Linked DNA regions of Homo sapiens: region 2 is linked to region 1. The links come from fine-mapping of genetic effects on gene expression. Tissue or cell type: whole blood. Region 1 holds a variant in brackets; the other region holds the start of a gene. All regions are shown on one strand. Distances are from middle to middle.

Evidence for each region. PIP is the estimated chance that this variant, and not a neighbour inherited with it, causes the effect.
Region 2: it holds the start of LHPP, and the variant in region 1 is fine-mapped to the expression of LHPP in whole blood (TOPMed, PIP above 0.99).

The regions. Positions count from the first base shown.
Region 1 is chr10:124,573,884-124,581,985 of GRCh38, reverse strand. All of the region lies in intron 6 of LHPP (phospholysine phosphohistidine inorganic pyrophosphate phosphatase), which reads right to left. Among named protein-coding and RNA genes, the nearest start is that of LHPP, 120 kb to the right of the region's middle. The variant G/C (reference allele first, on the strand shown) is at 3,703.
Region 2 is chr10:124,456,778-124,464,874 of GRCh38, reverse strand. It overlaps LHPP (phospholysine phosphohistidine inorganic pyrophosphate phosphatase), which reads right to left and starts at 3,052. Exons shown (of 7, transcript NM_022126.4): 1 at 2,888-3,052. The coding sequence starts at 3,012. RefSeq lists enhancers at 195-695, 696-1,196 and a silencer at 2,713-3,172.

The DNA.
Region 1 (8,102 bases):
ATGGTGAAACCCCATCTCTACTAAAAAATACAAAAAATTAGCTGGGTGTGGTGGTGGGCACCTGTAGTCCCAGCTACTTGGGAGGCTGAGGCAGGAGAATGGCATGAACCCAGGAGGCGGAGCTTGCAGTAAGCCAAGATTGTGCCACTGCACTCCAGCCTGGCCGACAAAGCAGAATCTGTTTAAAAAGAAAAAATGTGTGTGTGTGTGTGTGTGTATATACATATATGTATGTATTAAAATTGTGCAAAAAATTTGAATAGACATTTCTCCAAGGAAGACATACAGGTGGCCAATAAGTACAAGAAAAGATGCCTGACATCACTAGTCATCATTGTAGGGAATTGCAAACCAAAATCTGAATGAGATAGTACTTCACCAGCCACTAGAATGGCTAGAATTAAACAGTCAGATAAGAAGCGTTGGTAAGGACATAGATAAATCAGCCCTCATACACTACTGGTGGGAATGTAAAATGGCATAAAATGGTGCAGCTGCTTTTGAATAGTCTGGCAATTCCTCAAGTGATTAAAAATAGATACCACGTGACCCAGCAATTCCACTCCTTAGGCATATATTCAAGAGAAATGAAGACCTATGTCCACACAAAAACTTGCCCATGAATCCTTATAGCAGCATTACTCACAATAGCCAAAGGCAGAAACAACCCAAATATACACTAACACAGGAATGAATAAATAACTGTGTTCTATCCATACAGTGGAGCATTATTCAGCCATAAAAAGAAATGAAGTCCTGATACATGCTACAACATGGATGAACCTTGAAAACACGCAGAGTAAAAGAAGACAGAAAAGGCCACATACTATATGACTCCATTCATAAAAAATATTTAGAACAGGGAAACCCACAAAGGCAGAAAGCAGATGAGTATTTGCTTAGGGTTACAGAGATGAGGAGGTAACTAAAGGGTACAAGGTTTATTTGGGGGTAATGAAAATAGCCGGGCATGGTGGCTTACGTCTGTAATCCCAGCACTTTGGGAGGCCAAGGCGGGTGGATCCCAAGACCCAAGATCAGGAGTTCAAAACCAGCCTGGCCAACATGGCGAAACCCCGTCTCTACTAAAAATACAAAAATTAGCTGGGTGTGGTGGCGGGTGCCTGTAATCCCAGCTACTCAGGAGGCTGAGGCAGGAGAAGTGCTTAAACCCAGGAGGCAGAGGTTGCAGTGAGCCAAGATTGTGCCATTGCACTCTAGCCTGGGTGACAACAGCAAGACTCCATCTCAAAAAAAAAAAAAAGAAAAAAAAAAAGAAAATGTTCTAAAATTGACTGATAGCGATGGTGTATGAATATAATAAAAACATTAATTATTCACTTTAGATGGGTAAATTGTATCATGTGAATTATGTCTCAATAAAGCTTTAAAGATACATTTAACAGGAACTGATAAATATGAAAAGCTGACATGACAGAGGTGGCATTATAAGTCAGTGAGAGAAAAGGTGGACTACTCAAAAGTGATAATGGAACAACTGTTATCCACATAGAAAATAAAATCAAATCCCTACCTCACACCATATACACAAGTCAAATTCAAGTAGATTTGGAACCTGAATGTGCAAAGCAAATCTTTAGAACTCCTGAAGGAGAATGTAGAATATCCTTCTTTCTAAGTATAACAAGGAGAGGGATGAATTTCTTAGACAAGATAGAAAATGCACAAACTACAACATCATGATTAATACATCTGATTATATTTTAATTTAAAACTGTGTCCCAATAAGAGGCCATAAACAAAGTGGAAAGACAAACCACAGACTGGGAGCAGATGTGTGCACCACATATAACTGACAAACGAGTGGGAGTGAAATGTATAAAGAATGGCTACAAATCAGTAACAAGCATTCCACAGTGAAGCTACAAAGGATATGAATAGGTAATTCACAAAAAGGAAGTTTCAATGGTCAAGGTCATCAAACATTTGAAGAAGTGCTCAAGCACAGTAATAATATAGAAAATGTGGATTATATTACAACAAAATACCATCATAGTCTTAAGAGAAGAAGTTTAAAAAAATCTCACAATACCAAGAACTGGCCAGGATGTGGGATAATGGGATTCTTTCCTACTGCTGGAGGGGACAGAAATGGCACGTCCACTTTGGAGTCATCAACAGCGTATATCTAATTAGTAAAACAGAACATACATGTTTGCTCCAGCGAGCTCTTCTGCATCAGAGCTTGCAAAACTTCCTGGACCACAGGAATCACTTAAGTATCTGTTAAAAGAAAGAAAAGATTCCTGGCTCCAAATATCAGACCCACCAGAGCAGACCTGGAAATATGTATATTTAACAAACTCCCCAAGGTGACCATATTACCCGGCAAGTTTGGAGAAAAATGCTCTGAAGAACACCTAGCACCATATTTGCACAAGGAGACACATCCAGAGCTGTTCACAGAAGTGTGATCTGTGATCATGAAAAAAACTGGAAACCGCCTACATGTCCATCATCAGGGGACTGGAATATAAATTGTGGGACAGCCATACATTGAAATGCTACAGCACAGTTCTGGCCTCCTTCCTGGCCAACACTGAAATGCTGATTTCCAGAGGCCGGCCAGGCCTCAGAATGAATAGGTGCTATGTAAGTTTTCCCCTGTTGGCGCCGTGTCCGCGAATATAGTTGAGGGGAAACTGGACGGCACTCAGTGCTGTGATTCTTCTGCCTTCCCCAGAGTTGACTGCCTCCCAGGCAGGACTGACTCAGACTGGCCAGCGCCCCGGTGGTGGGCTGCCTGCTCAGAGGGCGCTCAGAACGCTCGGCCCGGGAGATGTTCCTTAAAGAGGGGCTGTCCGTAAGCTCCTCTGGGGAATATGAGATACACACCCACTCTCAGCCCGTTACAACATGTATCTGCTTGCTGGTAACCGGGAAGACCTGCCTTAGAGCCACTTCGACGGGGAGACCCAGTGACTGTGCCTGGAACAGCCTCAGGGGAGTGTGCCAGCTTCAAGCAGCCAGAATTTCCCAGGCTTACACAGCGGACCCCCCCGTCCGTGCTATCCTGCCCCTGGGAATCCCTTCTGGCCCTCCAGGGAGGCCTGAGGCCTCTGAGCAGCCTAAGATGGGTGGAGCCAAAGCTAAAGCAGCACTCAGGGCTGTGAAGAGCTTTTTTCCACAGTCAGGACAAAATGTGCCAGGCACTGGCCCCATGCCCCCTAGGTGCTGGGCTGCACTGGATGGTGGGGGTGCAAGCGGGGAGGGCAGAGATGCTGCTCAGCCCCTGCTAGCTTCTGACGCGTGGCGCGGTGTAAGCCCTGCATCCAGCAACTGTGCCTATGTCCCCTCAGCTCTGTGCCACCACAGCACCTGCCACACACACAGTTACATCCTCCCTGAACCCTCTCCCTCCCACACTGGCCAAGGCAGGGTGAGATGTCACCCTCTGAGCTCCCCAACACCCTGTGCCTCCTGATCAGAGCCCGTCACACCAGTGGTAACCGTTTGCGTCCCGCCAGTCCTTCACAGCAGACGCTCCACCTCAGAGACACTCAAGAACCCCTGCTGAATAAATGAATGGATGAATGAGTGAGCAGATCGGAGAAGGACACGTGAGGGCCAGTGACACATCGGGCTCCGCAGAGGACCCCAAGCCATGCCTGTGGCCCTGTGGCTCACCTGTCAAGTGGGGACTCGCAGAGCCGCCCCTGAGGTGGTCACGGGGCGTGTGCT[G/C]AGCACAGAGCCAGCAGCCCCTGCACGGACTTGGTCTTCGTTCTACTCCCTTGCAAATGCCCTGGGAAGCAGGTCAAGGCTATCAGCAGGGAGCAACCTGTGAAGGCTTCCTGGAGGTGACAGCATGTGGTGGGGCCTAGGAAGGCAGTGGGAACTCCAAATGTGTCTATGGGAGGAAGAGCGACTCAGGTGTGTGCCTGACCACTGTCCTGGGGCTTGGTCCCAGTCAGGTTCTCGGCTGGGGCCACTCTAGCACACCTGGCATAGAGGAAGAGGTCCTTCCAGCCCTTGGAAAGCACAGTTAGAGGAAACCTGGGTGGCACTCCCAGGATGGGGCTGTGTGTGCTGCACCGAGGTGGGGACCAGTGTGGCCCCACCTCACCTCAGGTAGCTCAGAGCCTGGGGGCTGAGAGGTCACACAAGGAGCTGGAGTAGCTGAGTACAGTTGTGACGGGGCCACAAGATTCAAGTCCCAATGCTGCCAGAGTGGAGGAGGGGCAGCCCCAAGGAAGGCCTTCCCCTGGGGAGGGATAGGAAGGTGAAGGTATGTGCATATGTGTGCACACATATGCATGTGCATGCATGTGTATTTACACATGTGTGCATGTATGTGTGCACACATGTGTAGGATGGGGCAGAACTGGTCACTGCTTCACATCAGGGAAGGAGAGATGACCACAGGGTGACATTTCAAAATGAGGAAGGCAGGGCCAGGCCTCTAAGGTTACCTGGTGCTGGGTAAAGAGGGACCTGGCTGTCCACCTGCCTCAGAGCCTCAGATTCCCTGGGGAACCTGAAAGCCGGAGGTGTGTCCTCTGGAGAGTCTCAACTGACAGTTTATGCAGCTAATTAAGTTTTTTCTTTGGATCCATAAAATCTCAGGGTGGACTCATTCCAAGGGATGCCTTCCTTTAAAGAAAAGGTTAGATGGGAAAAGGCTGTATGGGTGGGCCAGGGGTGGGAGGTGACCCCTGTGCCCAGGAGGCTGGGGTGGACGCTGGGGATGGTCTAGTCTTGGGTTGGCTGGGCTTGGCTGAGCCACCCTGGCCTCGGCCATCAGACACACAGCCTGGCGGTCGGGAGCACAAGCTCAGGACCCATCAGCCTACCTGGCCCTTCTCCTGGTCCAGCACGGACCCACCTGAGCAGGCTATGGAACCTGTCTGGCCTCTGCTCTCCTAGCTCTGAAATGAGGATGACAATGGTACCTACTTTCTAGGGTCTGGAAAGACTGAGTATGCGCTCAGTAGACTCTATTATTCGGTTTCCTTATCCTCAAAATGCAAATTACAGTGCCTACTTTATTTCTGGGTCGTGGCTGTTGAGAGGGCGGAGCAATGTACCTGTGCACTCAGGATCATGGCGGGCCAAGTCCCCTTGACAGTGGCACATGGAGGCCTGGCTGTGGTCGGGTGCTCAGCAGCCCACCCACGGGCCCGGGCTGGATGAGGTATCGTGGGCTACGGAAGGACAGGTGCACGAGGGCAGGGCTTTGCACAAACACTAATGTGGTCTCCCCGTCTACAGGGCAGGTAACTCCTGCCCTAAAGAACCCCCCTCAGCCCCCCAGTACCCCCGCCCTCAGCTCTGCCTATCCCTCGCTCAGGGAAGGAGTTTTGTGTGTGCAGTGAGGAGACCTCTGTATCCCATATTACCAGCAGGCCTGGGGGCAGACCATGGAGGAGGGTCTGGGGGCGAGATATGGGGGAGTCTGGGGTAAGATATAGGGGTGGCAGCAAAGGGGGATCTGGGGGCAGGCCATGGAGGGGGGTCTGGGAACAGCATATGGTAGGGAGTGGGAGCAAGATATAGGGGTTCTGGAGGCAGGATGGATATGAGGGGGTCTGGGAGCAGCTCATGGAAAGGAGTCTGGGGGTGGGATATACGGGTACCGCAAGGGGGGTCCTGGGGGCAACCCCTGAAGTGGGGTCTGGCCCTGCTGCCACCCCAGCGCCCCCACATGCTGCCTCATACCCCACACTAGTACTTTATGTTCTGCCGGGTTGGTAATGGGTTTTTCTTTGAACACGTTTCTGGGAAAGCTGTATTCTCACTCCTGCCTGCCAGGTAGTTTTAACATGTGTGAGCACTCTATTAGGCAGTACAATTATAATCTCATGTGAAGTCACCCTCAGCAGCTGATCAAGCCCGGGGTGTTCAGTGAACACAGTGGTTAAGAAACCAGGTCTGAGAGCTCCGGACAATGCAGAAACGACCAATCCAGTGGGAACCCCCATTTCTTTCGGCTCATACCTTTCTCATGAAGCACTGATTAGTATGTATCACAGCAGGCCCCAAGGGATGTGAACGTTTTCAGGGGGCCACCAGGCTGCCCAGACCCCCGACCTGGCACCCAGGTCCTCACCCAGCCCTGGCTCTCTGCCGTCCAGGCACCTCATGCCCCTGCGACCTCGCACACCCAACACGCCAGCCTTTCCTTCACTCACTCATCCACATGCACAATGCCTTTGGGGGTCAGGGTGTGGGGGACCGGGATGCAAGTTGGAGGTGGTGAGAGTGCAGGGGACACAGATCCGACCACGTGACGCAGTGGCAGTGGGTCCAGGGAAGCTGGTGCAGGAGTGGACAAAGGGGGCCAGGACGAGGGGAAAGACAGACACAAGGGCCAGCCAGTCCTGCAGACGCCTACAGAGGTCTCTGCTCAGAGCTTGGACCAAAGTGCTGAGGTAGGAGTCAAGAAACCCTGTAGCTCCTGCCCCCAGGAGAGGCTGCAGGACATGGGCACAGGGGACTGTCATGGAAAATCAGGGGCTGACGCATCCTAGGAAGAACAAAGCAGGGGTCCTGCAGAGAGAGAACCGGGTGCTTCTGCCTCAGGCAGCTGGAGAGGGCTTCTCCAAGTAAATGGCGTATTAGGGAGTGAACTGTACCTCCGCCCCCACTGAAGCCCTAAGCCCCAGTGTGCCTGTCCTTGGAGATGCGGACAGCTTGGTTTTGTCGGATGCTCCCCATGGTTAGGCTGAGTGGTGCGTTGGGGCAAGGGCACCTGCAGGAGGTAAGCTGCCCTTCTCAGCACACCAGGGGTGCACGCCGCTTCATGACTGGTGACATGAACCTTGATCACCTGGCCAAGGCTGTGTCCACCAGGATTCTCCACCGTAAACTTCCTATTTTGCCCTTTGTAATTGCTCAATATTTGGGGGTGGGGGGAATTACTTTAAGACTATGCAAAAATATTCTGTTTCTGCTTAAACTCCCCAAGGGCTCTGTTTCGAGGCTGCCAAGTTTGAGATACTTCATGATGGCAAGGGGGAGGTTGCATGGCTACTGATGGCAGCTTCTGAGCTCAGGGGAGGGCCCGGCAGGAGGCAGAGGCTGGAGAAGCATCATCTGGCTGGGTTTAAGGCCACAACCCAGGTGGGTTCCCTGGGGAGAGAGTGGAGAAGGACAGCAGTGGGCCCAAGCCTGGAGCCCATGACCTGGAAGATCAGGAAGGGATGGAGGCCTCAGGAAGACGAGGAGGGGTGTGCTTCAGGATGGCGGCCCCTCTCCCACCTCTGGACCTCCGACCATGCCCTCCCCCAGCCTCAGCTCCACTCCCTCCTGCTCTGTCCCTACAAATCCCCCCTCTGGCCCTACGGGGCCCAAATCAGATGCTGCCTCCTCCAGCACCATTCCAGGCACCCGGTGGGATGCGACCACTCCCCTCCCTCGGCGCCACCAAACTCAGGACTTTGGTTGACCCTTGGGTCAGCACAGGTGCCGGGTTCAGATCGGCCCTGGGAGCAGGCTCCAGGTCTGAAGCTCTGCAGCCCCCGGTGCCCACAGCTTCTGCACACAACACCTCCCGCAGATCAAAGCCAGACTGAGCTCCCGCCCATCCTCGAGCCAGGCTCTCTGCCTGTGAAGTTCTGGGGACTCGAGGGGACTATGCCGAGGGCCCCTCTTGGGGCCCTGCTCTTGGTGGCGAGCGAATCCGTGCGCGCCCTCGCAGGGGGGCGAGCCTGCTGCTGGCGATGCTCCCGGCTCACGCCCCCCAGCAAACCTGTGCCCCTCAGCGCCACGCTGCCTGTTTGCTGTGGCTGCGCGCTGAGATCCATATGTCAAAAACGACTTACTGTTCTGCGCGGCAGCAAATATTTTGGCAGGCGGGTCTCATCTGCTTGTCTTTCGGGTTTCACACATGTGCACGCAGATGACACATGTGGTCTATGGGAGGCAGAACTCACAGGGGCGTTGGGAGGAGCCAGCACCAGGGCTTCGTGTCCCCTGGACCACGCCAGGTGCTCCTGCAGCCTCCATGGGTGACACCTGTGGGGCAGCACGGTGGCTCCAGGGGAGCCAGGTCCCTGGAGGCTGTGGGGGTGGCTTTTTGATTCCCAGGTCTCAGACATAAACTCGGACCTGAGTCTCATGTAAACAAAATCAGCGTTTGGGTG
Region 2 (8,097 bases), 120 kb after region 1:
ACTCATGTCATTTCTCACGCATGAGACAAGGACAAATTCTCAGAAGTGGAACCACTGGTAGATAATGTCAAATGTATCTTCCGCAAGCAATGAGTGGCAGGGTCTCCCATGAGGCCTTGCCTGCCCCAGTCACAGCATTGAGCTCTGGCTTCCTGCTCCCCAGATGAGGCCCACTTCACCCCAAAACACTGCCCAGAGCCCTCTGCTGGATTCCCACCAGTGCCACTCACAGAATGCTCTCATCTGTGACTGAGCTAGTCTAAAGCTTTGGAGTAATGGAGAATAAGGTCAGGAATGCACTTAACCCTGAACTTCAGCCAACACTGAGAGCAGACCCAGGACCCAGCGGAGTGTCCTAGGTCTGGGCTGCCCTTTGTGCTTGCTCCTGGAAGCCAAGTCTCCCTGTTCCCAGTTCCCAGCCTCCCAAACACCTCCGGCTTCACTATGCGGGACCGTTTGGGTCCCTATTATCTCAGCAGCTCCCAGACATCAGACATGCAGATTGGTAGAATGGGGTCTCTAAGAAGGACCAAGAGACTCAGTTAATTGCCACCTACAGATAGGTATATTGAGTCCCAGTGACATCAGGCTACCAAGCCAGGGTGCCTCAGCTAGTGACTCCGGGAGGCCAAGTCCTGGCAGTTAGCCCTTCCCGGCTGCCTATCAACACATGGCAGTGCTGACCTGGGATGCCAACAGGAGGCCTTACAAAGCCCAGGTCCAGTGGTGCCAACCATGCTACTGAAAGTGTCCTTCTGGCTGGCCACAGTGGCTCACACCTCTAATCCCAGAACTCTGGGAGCTGAGGCAGGCAGATCACTTCAGCCCAGGAGTTCAAGACCGGCCTGGGCAACATGGCAAAACCCCATCTCTACAAAAAACACAAAAAAATTAGCTGGGCATGGTGGCACGTGCCTGTAGTTCCAGCTACTTGGGAGGCTGAGGTGGGAGGATCTCTTGAGCCCTTGAGGTAGAGGTTGCAGTGAGATTGAACCACTGCACTCCAGCCTGGGTGGCAAAGTAAGACCTTGTCTCAAAAAAAAAAAAAAAAAAAGAAAAAAAAATTAGGCCAGGTGTGGTGGCTCATGCCTGTAATCCTAGCACTTTGGGAGACCAAGGCAGGAGGACTGCCTGAGCCAAGGAGTTCAAGACCACCCTGGCAACATAATGAGACCTTGTCTCAAAAAAAAAAATTATACAAAGAAAAGTGTCAGCCAGGTGCGGTGGCTCACGCCTGTAATCCCAGCACTTTAGAAGGCCCAGGCAGGTGGATCAGTTGAGGTCAGGAGTTCGAGACCAGCCTAGCCAGTATGGTGAAACCCCATGTCTACCAAAAATACAAAAATTAGCTGGGCGTGGTGGCGGGTGCCTGTAATCCCAGATACTTGGGAGGCTGAGGCAGGAGAATCACTTGAACCTGGGAGGCAGAGGTTGCAGTGAGCCCAGATGGCGCCACTGCACTCCGGCCTGGGCAACAAGAGCAAAACTGTCTCAAAAAAAAAAAAGTGTCCTCATGGTCAAGTCTTGGCTGGCACGATGTTCTCTTCCTCCTCCTCTCACCTAAACCAATGCAGTCCAACAGAATTATAATGAGAGCCACAAAGGTAATTTAAAGTTTTCTAATAAGCACATTAACAAAAGTTAAAAAAAAAAGGTATACTTAATTTCAAATATTTTAACCTAAAACAGTATATTAAAAATATTATCAACTGGGCATGTGGCTCACGCCTATAATCCCAGCACTTTGGGAGGCCGAGGCAGGTGGATCACCTGAGGTCAGGAGTTAGAGACCAGCCTGCCCAACATGGTGAAACCCCGTCTCTACTAAAAATACAAAAAATTAGCCGGGTGTGGTGGCACATGCCTGTAATTCCAGCTATTCAGGAGGCTGAGGCAGGAGAATCGCTTGAACCTGGGAGGCGGCGGTTGCAGTCAGCAGAGATTGCACCACTGCATTCCAGCCTGGGCAACAAGAGCAAAACTCCGTCTCAAACAAAACAAATAAAAAAAGTAACTGGGCATGATGGCGGGTGCCTGTAATCCCAGCTACTCGGGAGCCTGAAGGGGGAGAATCACTTGCACCCGGGAGGCGGAGGTTGCAGTGAGCCGAGATCGTGCCATTGCACTCCAGCCTGGGCGACAGAGCAAGACTCCATCTGAAAAGAACAAAACAAAACAAACAAAAAGTATATCATTTCAACAGGCAAACAACATAACCCATTTTCATGTTTTTATTTTACATTTTACTCACGAAGTCTGGTGTTTTTGGGGGTTTTGTTTATGAGACCGTCTCGCTCTGCAGTCCAGGCTAGAGTACAGTGGGGTGATCACAGCTCACTGTAGCCTTGACCTCCTGGGCTCAAGCGATCCTCCTGCCTCAGCCTCCCAAGTGGCTGGGCCTACAGGCGTGCACCACCACACCCGGCTAATTTTTAAATTTTTGGCAGAGACGGGGTCTCCCTATGTTGCCCAGGGTGGTCTCCAACCCCCTAGCCTCAAGCGATCCTCCCTCCTCTGCCTCTGCAAGTGCTAGAATCACAGATGCGAGCCACCGCGCCCGGCTAAGTCTTGTTAATCGGTATGCATTTTACGCTTACAGCACATCTCAATTCAGACTGGCCGCAGGTCAAGCGCTCAGCAGCGCACGTACCAGGTGGCCGCCCTGTCTGACCGCGCAGCCCTAACCAGCAGAGTCCTGGTGCTCGCCGGGGGCAACAGTGGGGTCGTCCGTGGTCAGCACTGTGCGCGCACCGGGGTGGGAAGGGGGAGACCGAGGCGGGGCCTGCGCCGCGGCCCCGCCCCCTGCCGCCCCGCCCCCTGCCGGCAGCCAGGGAGCGGGCTGAGCTTAGAGCTCGGCGGCCCCAGCGGCGTCCCGGGGCCCACTCACCTGGCCACCGCCTCCACCGAGCCGGCGATGGCCGTGCCGCCGCCCGCGCCGCTGTCGTACAGCACGCCCGAGATGTCAAGCAGCACCCCGCGCACGCCAGCCAGCCGCTTGCCCCACGGTGCCATGGCGCCCGGCCCTGCTCCTCAGCTCCGCGTCCCAACCGACGCCGGCGCCGGCGCCGCGGCCGCGCAGGGGCGCCTGGGAACTGTAGTCCCGCGGGCGGGGCAGGGCAAGAAGACCGGGTGCAAACCCGGAACTGGGGCGCGGCCTGGGCACCCCGGCGTCACTCGCCCCTGAAACGGTGTCCTTTTCGGAAGCTTTCTTCCCAGGAGATCAGCGGACAAAGAGCAGGAAAAGCAGAAAACAAGTCCCTAAGAAAGGTCAAAGGCAAATTGAGACAAGAAGGCACCTGTAGCCAGGGGCGGTGGTTCACGCCTGCAATCCCAGCACTTTGGGAGGCAGAAGCGGGCGGACAGCTTGTGCCCAGGAGTTCTAGACCAACCTAGTCAACATAGTGAGACCCTGTCTCTATTAAAGAAAGAAAGAAAAAGTACAATACAAAATTGAGGCCGGGCGTAGTGGCTTATGCCTGTAATCCCAGCACTTTGGGAGGCTGAGGCGGGTGGATCGCTTGAGATCAGGAGTTCGAGACCAGCCTGGTCAACATGGTGAAACCCCTGTCTCTACTAAAAATACAAAAATCACCTAGGTGTGGTGGCGCATGCCTGTAGTCCCAGCTACTCGGTAGGCTGAGGCGGAAGAACCGCTTGAACCTGGGAGGCGGAGGTTGCAGTGAGCCGAGATTGCACCACTGCACTCCAGCCGGGGCGACAGAGCAAGACTTTGTCTTAAAAAAAAAAAAAATTATATGCAGATAACAGCCCTGCATAGATGAGGATGCATAGGACCTGGGCTGAGAAGAAAACGGGACTATCACAATGCGTTAAACCCAGGAGGTTTTTGGATAAGCTATAAAATACCACTCGATGCTACATTATTTTTGCAATAAATACACATTGATATTAAAAGGGAGGAGTTTCCTCAATGGCCCCTCGGAACCTTTCAAGTTATTAAATAGAAACGAGAACACTTTACTTCTGGTCCAACATAGCTTTGAGCTTTCAAAGAAGAGAGGATCATATTATTTCACCATTTCTTTTCAGGCTCTTGATTCACAGAAAGGATGAGGAATTCGTTGAAATGTTATGGGGTTCAATGAATTGTGTATATTTTGTTGACATGCTTACTAGGGGAGCTGTTTACAAGTGAAATAAAATACAGTTCCTACCCTTTGGGATTTCCACTAATGGGGTTGGGGAGTAGTATACCTTATATAAGGGTTCTTAGTCGCAGACAATAGACACCACTCCAGCTAGAGGGGTTTTGTTTACATGAGGTGAAGGAGCTTACAGATGACGGGTCTAAGTCCTACACAGCCAGGAGCCATGCAGCCACGAGAAACACTTAATTTTACTACTCCATTGGGACCACTGCCCCATCACTTAGTGCAGCCCCCAGCATAGCTGCCCCCAAAAGAACAAAACATATCCACCACTGTGCCCTCCACCTGTGGCCACCCACTCACTTTCACTGTGTCTGGCTTGGTGGAACCTAGCCCACGCTGCAAAGGAGTCTGGGAAATGCAGTTTTTAGTGTTCCAGGGGCTGAGTGAGTCAGTTTGGAGAATCTGCTAGGAACATCATGAACCGTACACGTATTGAGACCCTACTCTGTGCAGTGGGCACAAAAAAGTTCTAGGGTGTGATCCTTGCCTTCCAGGATCAAGACTGGGCAGAGAACAATGGAAGACCTTCACGACTGCTGACCAAATGTGTGCCAAGTGGCAATGAGTGACACAGACACAGTCAAGAGGATGACCTCTGCAGGCCTAGGAGGGCAGCTGTGGCTTCTGGGCAGGGGCAGCCTGAAATGGACCTTGGAGAATGGCTGGGCTTTAGCTTCATGCCAAGGAGGAGGAAAAGGGGTGCTTCTGCCAGTGGTGTGAGCCTACCCATAGTTGTTTCTTTTCAGTCAGCTCTGTGGGTACTCTTGGGCAAGTCCCTTTTCATTTCTACGACTACAGTAGACAGAATAGTGCCCCCTTGAGATGTCCACCTCCCAATCCCCACAACCTCTAAATATATTACCTGACATGGCAAAAGGGACTTAGATCTTGCAGAGCCTATGCTCCTGTAGGGAGATTATCCTGGATGGTCCAGGTGGGCCCAGTATAATGACATGAGTCCTCATAAGGGAAAGAGGGAAGCAGGAGAGAGTCAGAGTCAGAGAAGGAGGTGTGACAGCAGAAGCAGAGGTCAGAGAGAGAGGTGTGAAGATACCGTGCTACTGGCCTTGAATACAAAGGGGCCATGAGCCAAGAAATGCAGGTGGCCTCTGGAAGCTAAAAAAGGCAAAGAATTGGATTCTCCCCTAGAGCCTCCAGAAGGAATGCAGCCCTGCTGGTACTTCAAGTTTAGGACTTCTTACCTCCAGAACTATAATAATAAATCTGTTGTTTTAAGCCACTAAGTATATGGTAATTTCTTGCAGTAGTGACAAGAAACAAATACAGGGATCCAGGTCCCTCACCTGAAAAATGTGGCAAGTCTCTAAGTGTGGGCCACTGATAGGCTAAAACTTGATCTGAAAATTCCAGGCTTTTCTTGGGATGCAATGAGTGTAGGGCATTGTCTATGTTAGGGTTGCATTTGGCTACATGTAACAGAAACCCAGCCATAGTTGCCCAACCAAATCAGATTTTACTTTTCCTCATATATCAAGAAGCCAAGAGGGAGGAAATCCTGGATGGGACAACAGCTCCCAGGACCATCAGGCTGCCTCCTGCTTTCTGCTCCACCACTCTCTCAGCATGTGGCCTGCTCCTCACGCTAGCAAGATTCCTGCTCCACCCGAGGCATCATGACTGCATTTCAGGCAGGAAGGAGGGGAAAGAAAAGAAAAAAGGGCATGTGACAGCTGAGTCTGACCCTTTATACCCAGAAAGCAAAAGCTTTCCCAGAACCCTGATCCAATGGACTCTCATTTGCATCTTTTGGGCCAGAGCTAGCCAGGTGGCACATGAACACCATAGTGTGCCAGGAAGCATACACCACTGACTGAGCTTTCAGCCTGTTATAGCAAATCTACAACTCATGTCTGAATTTCAGCTCAACTATGAATCTATCAACCATCTATTGCTATACTAGACATATGCCTCATCCTTTCAGATTTGCTTGTCATAGTCAGGACTCTTCGGCTGCCAGTGACAGAAGCCAAATTTCAAATGGCTTCAATTTAAAGGAATTTATTGGCTCGCACAACCAGATAGTCTAGCAATGGACAGCGTCAGGCATGGCTGGTTATCAGCTCTGGGCTCACAGAGTCTCCGGTACACCACCTGGTGAGGATCCTTTTCCTCAACTTGGTCTGGCTGTTCCAGAAAGAACTCTGATTGGCTCTCTTGGGTCAGTGTCCCCCATTGTCTGTGTTCCAATGGAAGTGATACTGTGATGTTCCAGCCTGACTGGTGCCCTTACCAGGGCTGGAGGTGGGACACTTGCCTATAGTCCCACCATGACCAGAAGGAAAGGGAGAGGACAAGCCCTCCAGCAAAAAGCAGGGCGCATTAGCCGGACGTGGCAGCACATACGTGAAGTCCCAGCTACTCCAAAGGCTGGGGCAAGAAGATCACTTGAAGCTGGGCGTGGTGGCTCACGCCTGTAATCCCAGCACTTTGGGAGGCTGAGGCGGGTGGATCACGAGGTCAGAAGATCAAGACCAGCCTGACCAACATGGTGAAACCCCCATCTCCACTAAAAATACAAAAATTAGTCAGGCGTGGTGGCACACGCCTGTAATCCCAGCTGCTCAGGAGTCTGAGGCAGGAGAATCGCTTGAACCCGGGAGGCGGAGGTTGCACTGAGCCAAGATCACGCCACTGCACTCCAGCCTGGGCGACAGAGCGAGACTCCATCTCAAAAAAAAAAAAGAAGATCACTTGAACCTAGGAGTTGGAGGCTATAGTGTACATGACTGCAACTGCAACTGTGAATGGCCACTGTATCCTAGCCTAGGCAATATAGCAAGACTTCTCTAAAAAAAAAAAAAGAGAGAGAAAAGAAAGCAAAAAAGCAGGGCACTGTGAAAGAGGAATAAGGAAGCAACATGGTATAGGCAAAAGTAGCAGGTGCCCACCAGTCACCAAGACCTTTCTTATTATCAAATCCCATCTCCCTGGAAAGTGAGACCAGACCAAGTGAGGGCCATATGAGCCAAAGAATCTTCTGTTTTATTGAGATGGGCTATAGTGGAAAAAAAAATCAGAGCACCATTAATAACAGAAATGCTTCTCAGGCCGGGCACAGTGGCTCACACCTTGGGAGGCCAAGGCGGGCGGATTACCTGAGGTCAGGAGTTCGAGACCAGTCTGGCCAACACAGGGAAACATCGTCTCTACTAAAAATGTAAAAATTAGCTGGGCGTGGCGGCACAGGCCTATTGTCCCAGCTACTCGGGAGGTTGAGGCAGGAGAATCACTTCAACCTGGGAGGCAGAGGTTGCAGTGAGCCAAGATTGCGCCACTGTGCTCCAGCCTGGGCAACAGAGCGAGACTCTGTCTCAAAGAAAGAAAGAAAGAGAGAGAGAGAGAGAGGAAGGGAGGGAGGGAGGGAGAGAGAGAGAGAGAGAGAGAGAGAGAGAGAGGGAGAGAGAGAAAGAAAGAAAAAGAAAGAAAGAAAGAAAGAAAGAAAGAAAGAAAGAAAGAAAGAAAAAGAAAGAAAGAAAGAAAGAAATGCTTCTCAAACTTTAATGTGCATTAGAATCACCTGGAAGGCTTTTTAAAACAGGTTTAGATTCAGGAGGTCTGGGTGGCCCTAGGAACCTGGAAGATGGCTGTCAGTTGATGTGGGCTATTTTCTGGAGTCCTACACATGGCCTCTGCATGTGGCTTGTGTATCTCACAGCATGACAGCAAGAGTCAAAGAGGAAATGTCTCCAGGGCAAGTGTTCCCAGGGAACAAAGTGGAGGCTGCAGGGCTTCCTGTGATTTAGCTTTGGAAGTCACAGAGTCACTTCAGCCATGTTGTACTGGTCACCCAGGGCCAGGCCAGGCTCAGTGTGGGAGTGGATGACACAGGGGCATGAGCACTAAGCAGCATGGTTGATTAGGCGTGGCCATTTTTTGAGGCTAGATACCGCAACAAGTATACCAG